Homo sapiens: one gene and its partner. The protein of the gene in region 2 purifies or fractionates together with the protein of the main gene of each other region. This does not show direct contact. Each region holds a gene or a part of one and is shown on either strand. Other genes may lie near its edges.

Evidence for each region.
Region 1: the proteins of FKBP9 (region 2) and CASC3 purify together in Homo sapiens (co-immunoprecipitation; 2 studies listed by BioGRID and IntAct, with this or other methods). This does not show direct contact.

What each region holds. Positions count from the first base shown.
Region 1 is NC_000017.11:40,168,015-40,171,663, reverse strand, and holds part of CASC3 (protein CASC3), read right to left. Parts: intron 3,462-3,649; coding exon 3,247-3,461; intron 2,341-3,246; coding exon 2,218-2,340; intron 2,067-2,217; coding exon 2,043-2,066; 3' UTR 2,002-2,042; intron 1,218-2,001; 3' UTR 1-1,217. UniProt on the Homo sapiens protein: Required for pre-mRNA splicing as component of the spliceosome. Core component of the splicing-dependent multiprotein exon junction complex (EJC) deposited at splice junctions on mRNAs.
Region 2 is NC_000007.14:32,963,844-32,967,492, reverse strand, and holds part of FKBP9 (peptidyl-prolyl cis-trans isomerase FKBP9 isoform 1 precursor), read right to left. Parts: intron 1-3,649. UniProt on the Homo sapiens protein: PPIases accelerate the folding of proteins during protein synthesis.

The DNA.
Region 1 (3,649 bases), on a different chromosome or scaffold from region 2:
AGAGAAGTGGTTTAGTGCCATGGATAGGGAGGAAAGATAGGAGCCCTTGCCCAGAAGGTGACTGGCTTCCTTAGGCCTTAAGCCCAGGAGTTTTTATATTCTGTCTGCAAGGACAAAAATAGAATTCGGGGAAAATAAGGTAGTAACATCTAAAACACTTGTAGCAGGAAAGACGTGGAGAAGAGCAATTGCAAAGGACAGGGTAGACTGCTTGCTGGATAATATTTGCCTTTAAAGAGATGCATTGGTCCACAGCAACTGGAAAAGGGGTGTAGCAAGAAGAATGGAAAGAAGAGAAGCAAGGCCCTCTAATTCCACTTACCTCAAAAGACTGAGCCCTGAGGACTATGTGAATACACACCCCTAAAGGCAAAGGCTCTCACTCCACCATCCCTTTCTCACAAAAGCATCTGGTGTGCCATCTCTCCCCACAGTAGGGTATTGGCCCTCAGCAGAGAACAGAAGCCCATCATAGTACAGGTATTGATGGATGCTCAGACTCCTAAAAACCTAAGTCAAAGAGAAGGGCTCCTACCCACCTACTCTGAGCTTTTCTGCACAATGGGACCCTCTGTGCAGACAGCCATGCTTCCACAGGGTTAGAGTTAAGGGAATACAAGTATACAAGAGGATAACAAATGCCAACTAAAAGTGAAAGGCCAGGTCTTTTTAGACTTGGTGGGGAAGGCTGGCTGATACATTCTCCATTATCTGGGATGCACGGAAGAGTCAAAAGGGAATCCAGAGGGGCTAGAAAACCAGAAGACTAGACTTGTTTCATTTAAAGGCAGGGAGAGAGAGCAAGAAACAGAAACAAAGAGAAAAAATTAAAATAATATTAAGGATAAGAAGCCAGGCTTTAAAAATGAACATCTTAGAAAACAAAACAAACAGGAAGGAGCTTCCTTGGGAACAGAAGACACTTCAATTTCCCAGAAGTGAAGAACAGCAGAAGACATGGGCTTCTGTATCTAGACTCAGAAGCTTGGGGCTGTCTGGCTCTCTCTGCTCCCCCGAACACAGCCAACTCAAGTGAAGAGTGAAGATGGGACGAGGTCCACTTGTTTCTCCCTCTCTCTAGAGCCTGTCCTCAGAGGAAGGCAGGGGTCCTCCTCTTTCAGCTGTTTGCTGGTAGGAGCCACACCCTATATCTTTGAAGCCCTTCTGGTAGTAGATAGCCAGCTGTATTTCTCTTCTGAGTTCTCACCTCTGCTGCTCTGACAGGGGTTGGAAAAAGGGAAGAACCACCAAAGTGTTAGTGGGCCTTCTGGGCATTCACAAGCTGTTTTCAAAAAGCCACACTTCTAAATAATGTGTTTTAAGTAATGTCCTTAAACAAAAGCAACAAAACCCCCAGTCCTTCTCCTCTATGATCTTTAGAACTGGTTTTTTCTGCTATAACATCTCAAATTTAGATTTCCCTTTTCCTTGACTGCCTTCCTGTATTTTTTCCTTGTAGCTTCCCAATTGAAAACTGTCATGTTAACAATCGTTTCTACTTCAACCCTGCCCAATACACTTGCCAAACAAACAAACTGGCAAATTTCAGGACTCCTTTAAGCCTCCTGAGATATCCCATGATTATTATAACTTAAAGCATTAATCAGAGGCTGGGTGGGGTGGCTCACACCTGTAATCCCAACACTTTGGGAGGCCAAGGCAGGTGGATCACCTGAGGTCAGGAGTTCAAGACCAGCCTGGCCAATATGGTGAAACCCCATTCCCACTAAAAATACAAAAATTAGCCAGGTGTGGTGGTGCGTGCCTGTAATCCTAGCTACTTAGGAGGCTGAGGCAAGAGAATCGCTTGAACTCAGGAGATGGAGGTTGCAGTGAGCCGAGATTGCACCACTGCACTCCAGCCTGGATAACAGACTGAGACGCCGTCTCAAAAAAAAAAAAAAAAAAAAAAAAAAAAAAAGCATTAATTAAGTGATTTTTGTTTATTAAGCAAGTGTGAGCATTAGTTTTAACAATATTCACAGTAAGTTGTGCACTTACTTTTATATGATGTTAAGATTTAAAATATTCAGAAACTTGTATTAACTGGAACCCCTGCTTACAACCTGAAATAACAAAGTTGGAATTTGTTATCAGGTCATAACAAAAAGACTGTTTTCCAGAGAAACACACCCAGAAAATGAGGGAAATCCTCTGGGGAGAAGGAAAGCCCACTGACGGAGCATGTGCATTAAGTATAGGAAGGAACTCTCATACCTCAGGTGGAGGGGGCTTGATGGTGACTGGCTGGGGAGTCCTCCGGGGTGGGGAGGGCTTTGGCTGCACCTGCTGCTGGGCGGGGTTATAGTAGGTCACTCCTCCATATACCTGTGATGGGGCCTGGGACCCCACAAGCCAGGAGAAGAAAAAGTTAGGAATGAATTCATCCAACCTATGATGAACAGGAAATATTATTCAGCCATAAGAGAATTGGGGAATTTATAATTTTAAAAATATCTAATCTGCCCACCCTTCAAAATAAAGTGACTATTCATTTTTGCCTTAATTCTTCATTATTATGCTCTGGTTTTTATTTCTTCAAAGTACTGCCCAGCTTTCTCTAATTCCTACCATCAGCTGACAAATGGAAAAGGCTGAGTTCAGTAGCGACACTACAGATACTTGATTATGTCAACGTGGTGGAAGTTAAGCAGGACAGAGGTAGGGGTGATAAGGAGTAGAATACAGCTTCTTTATGCAATAGAGTAAAAACCAGGTATTGCCACCTATGATGTACCACAACACAGGAAAGAAACACCATTAAAGAAACTGAACGCTGGGTGCGGTGGCTTATGCCTGTAATCCCAGCACTTTCGGAGGCCGAGGCAGGTGGATCGGTTGAGGTCAGGAGTTTGAGACCAGCTTGGCCAACATGGTGAAACGCCATCTCTACTAGAAATACAAAAACTAGCCGGGCATGGTGGCAGGCACTGTAATCCCAGCTACTCGGGAGGCTGAGGCAGAAGAATCGCTTGAACCCAAGAGGTGGAGGTTACAGTGAACCGAGATCACGCCACTGCACTCCAAGCCTGGGCAACGGAGAAAAAAACTGAAAAGAATAAAGATGATGGGCATTACATAAGCTGCATTTCCAGCTCCTGACCACTAAGAGGCGTCTTGGTGTCACATACAAATCAGTGGCACTGAAAATGTTCTCTCAAATTCCTTTAGCATTCTCCCCATACCACATTCCTGTCTGAATTAAAGAATGTGTATCTAGAAAAACATGATCATTAGCCATCTCACCTGTGTATTAGGATACAGATGAGGCGGTGGTGGGGGAGGCAGTGCCCCTGGAGCATAAGGGTAACTGGGATTACCAAAGTTCATGACGCCTGGAGCAGAAAAGTAAGTAGGAGCAAGCAACTGCTGAGGTGGTGGCTGTCCTGGAGACATGGACACTGGTGGGGGATAGAGGCCTGGATTGGGCAGAGGAGCTGGTGTCTGGTGGGGATGTAAACCTGGATAAGGAGAAGAAAAAAACTGAAAAATAAAGTAACATCATTTTCACAGGATGGCCCGGCTGGACTGCTCAGTATAATCAGGCTCAGAATGGAAGTCCTCAGGATGGACACAAGAGGAACTTGTTGCCCAAGCAGCCAGGATGGCCAGACTCCCAGGCTAGCAGCACAAAGCTCAGGAGGATGGG
Region 2 (3,649 bases):
AGAAAGACAAATACTGCATGATTCCACGAATTATATGAGGTATCTAAAGTAGTTAAACTCATAGAAACAGAAAGTGGAATGTTGTTATCAGCGGACAAGGAAGAAGGAAAAATGCAGAGAAGTTGTTCAGTGGGCACAAAGTTTCAATTTTGCAAGATGGAAAAATTCTAGAGATATATTGCACAACAGTGTGAATATAGCTAACACTATTATACAGTTCAAAACAGTTACAATGGTAAATTTGATGGTTTTTTTAAAGTAATAACAAAGTGGGTGTGTGCAAAGGTGTGTACAGAACACAGCAAAACACAAGGGATAGTACCTCTGTGGCTGGGTGGGGAATGCTGCTATCACACCTGAGCTTGAATGACAGAGACAGAGAGGGCAGCTAGGGGTTACCTGACAGGAACCGGGCCCTTTAGTTTAGGGCCACAATCCATGGTGACCCTACAGACAGGAAGCCAGAGGAATACATACCTTCACCTCACTCTCTTCCCTCGCTTTGAACATCTGATGCCTGATAGGGTTTGGATCTGTGTCCATGCCAAATCTCATGTTGAAATGTAATCCCCAGTGTTGGAGGTGGGGCCTGGTGGGAGGGCTTAGCGCCATCCCCTCGGTGATGAATGAGTTCACAGATCTGCTTGTTTAAAAGTGTGTGGCACCTCCCACCCTCTCTCTTGCTCCTGCTCTTGCCATGTGAGATGTCTGCTCCCCTTTTCCCTTCCACCATGACTATAAATCTCCTGAGGTCCTCACCAGAAGCTGACGACAGCATGCAATGCTTCCTGTACAGCCTGCAGAACTGTGAGCCAATTAAACCTCTTTTCTTATAAATTACCCAGCCTTGGGTATTTCTTTCCAGTGATGCAGGAATGGCTTATCACAATGTCCCAATGGCTGAACCCAACCAAAGCCAGAAGACAAAGAGTCATTAATGCAACCCATACTATGCACATGTAGTCCATACATGTCAGCCTCCCAGAGCAAAAAGCAAATGGAACAGGTGAAGGGTGGACCTAGAAAGGCAAATGGAAACCACCTAGCACATCCAACACCCTCCTTTTCTCTCCATCAGCTTGTTTTTATCCCCTTCCATCACTGCCCCAGGGGGGTGATGGGAAAGTTGTCTGTAGCACCCTCTGATGATGCTCTTTAAAATTATTAACCCAAGGACCACTAAGACAAGAGACATCATAGTCAACACACTAAACTGCCTACACAAAAGCTCACATTATATTGGCAACACATTACTTGAGATAAATAACTATCCTCATGGCTATATTCTTTTTTTTTTTTTTTGAGATGGCGTCTCACTGTCACCAAGGCTGGAGTGCAGTGGCACGATCTTGGCTCACTGCAACCTCTGCTTCTCATGTTCAAGCAATTCTCCTGCCTCAGCCTCCCTAGAAGCTGGGATTACAGGCACACGCTACCACGCCCAGCTAATTTTTGTATTTTTAGTAAAGATTTGGTTTCACCATGTTGGCCAGGCTGGTCTTGAACTCCTGACCTCAGGTGATCCACCTGCCTTGGCCTCCCAAAGTGCTCGGATTAGAAGCATGAGCCACCGCGCCCAGCCCCCCATGGCTCTCTCTCTCTCTCTCTATATATATATATGTATGTATATATATATATCTGTACACACATATATATATATATATATATATATATATATATTTTTTTTTTTTTTTTGACATGGAGTCTCGCTCTGTTGCCCAGGCTGGAGTGCAGTGGTGCAATCTTGGTTCACTGCAACCTCCACCTCCCGGGTTCAAGCAATTCTCCTGTCTCAGCCTCCTGAGTAGCTGGGATTACAGGTGCACGCCACCACGCCCAGCTAATTTTTGTAATTTTAGTAGAGATGGGGTTTCACCATGTTGGTCAGGCTGACTTGAACTCCTGACCTCATGATCCACCTGCCTCGGCCTCCCAAAGTGCCAGGATCACAGGCATGAGCCACCGTGCCTGGCCCCCACGGCTATATTCTTAAGGCAGAATGGGGCTTCTAAATGTAGGTTTAAATCTGCAATAAGAACGAGCTTTTAAAAGGACAAATGACAGGCTGGGCATGGTGGCTCAAGCGGTAATCCCAGCACGTTGGGAGGCCCAGGCGGGTGGATCACTTGAGCTCAGGAGTTCGAGACCAGCCTGGGCAACATGGCAAAACCTTGTCTCTACCAAAAATACAAAAATTAGCCAGGTGTGGTAGCATACACCTGTGATCCTAGCTACTCGGGTGGCTGAGGCATGAGAATTGCTTGAACCCAGGAGGCAGAGGTTGCTGTGAGCACCACTGCACTCCAGCCTGGGAAACAGAGTGAGACCCTGTCTCAAAAAGAAAGAAATTAAAAAAAAGACTGCCATATTTTGAGAACCCATAACAGAAGGGAGGCAAAGTAAGGAAGAACAAGTCCACTGGGCACGGGAACTACCCTTTGGGGGCCTCAAAGTTGGTCCTGTCTCACTTGGGCCAACTCAGATGGCTGACTCACAGGGGACCTGCTTGACGTTTGGACTGTGGTCCTGCCACCACCCTTCACGAATGGGACTGAAACTCACCTCCCCACTGGCCGCCTAGCTCCCAGCTGAGACTCACCCCCTCTGCTGGCTGAGTTTCACCACTGAGACTGATCTTACTGCAGACTTGAAAGCAGGGAGGCAGAGTTTGGCTTTTCTGCCTAACACCTCCCTCTCCACACATTCACTCCCAAAGGGGACTCTGGGCTTTCTGGACCCTTTGCCTAAGACTATTTCCCTCAAACAGCCATCTCTACCAGTAGCTAATGAGACATGCCAGGGAGAAAAGAAAAGCAGTTAATGAACTGGCAAACTACCCAGACGGGAAAGTGTGAGAACGCTGCAGAGGAGGAAGGTTAGAGGAGGTGAGGGAGGAGAGAGGGAGCAAGCGGGAACAGAGAAGAAATGAAAGAGAACGCCTCCATTCATAGCTCCTCAGAGAATCAGACCCTGAAACATGAGCTGTTGGCTTGGATGGGCTTTGACCCATTAAAACATCATTAAATGAAAAACTTTGCAAAGCAAAGCAAAATCCATTGCTGTTATGGATTTTTGTTTTTAAGCAACTGCACAAATTAAAATGTCAGATCCCTATAGATGATTCCCATTTTTCACAGGGCTTAGCCCAGTAAAATACCATACAGCCAAATTAAATTGTTAATATAAATGTGTAATTGCTCGCAATGACCCACAAATGAAAATTCAAAGCCACGCTAATAAGTCTTCACCAGGGGTGCTTGGCCAGCTGCCAATGGCCTCAGGAGACCACAGTGAGAAGTAGCTAGGATCTTCCCCTAGTTAGCAGAAACGCACAGGGCTAATGCACGGTAGCAGCCTCCGTTTCAGCACTCTCCTTCTCCATAAAAAGAGCTGCAATGTGCAGTCACACTCTAAACAACTCCTAAGTTAGCATGTCCTGACCTGGCCAGTTGTTCTGACACCACTGACCCTGTCAGGCCCCCCTGACTGCATCCTGGCTGCTGTCCAGCCTACTGGCTCTTCCCTGTGGACCAGTCCTGCTGAAAGGGTGAGCCTGGGCCCCCACTTAGGACCATGTGACTTAACACCCAATAGGGTAGACACCTGCCCCAAGCAGGACCCATCAGATTATTTCCTGGAAACCTAGAAG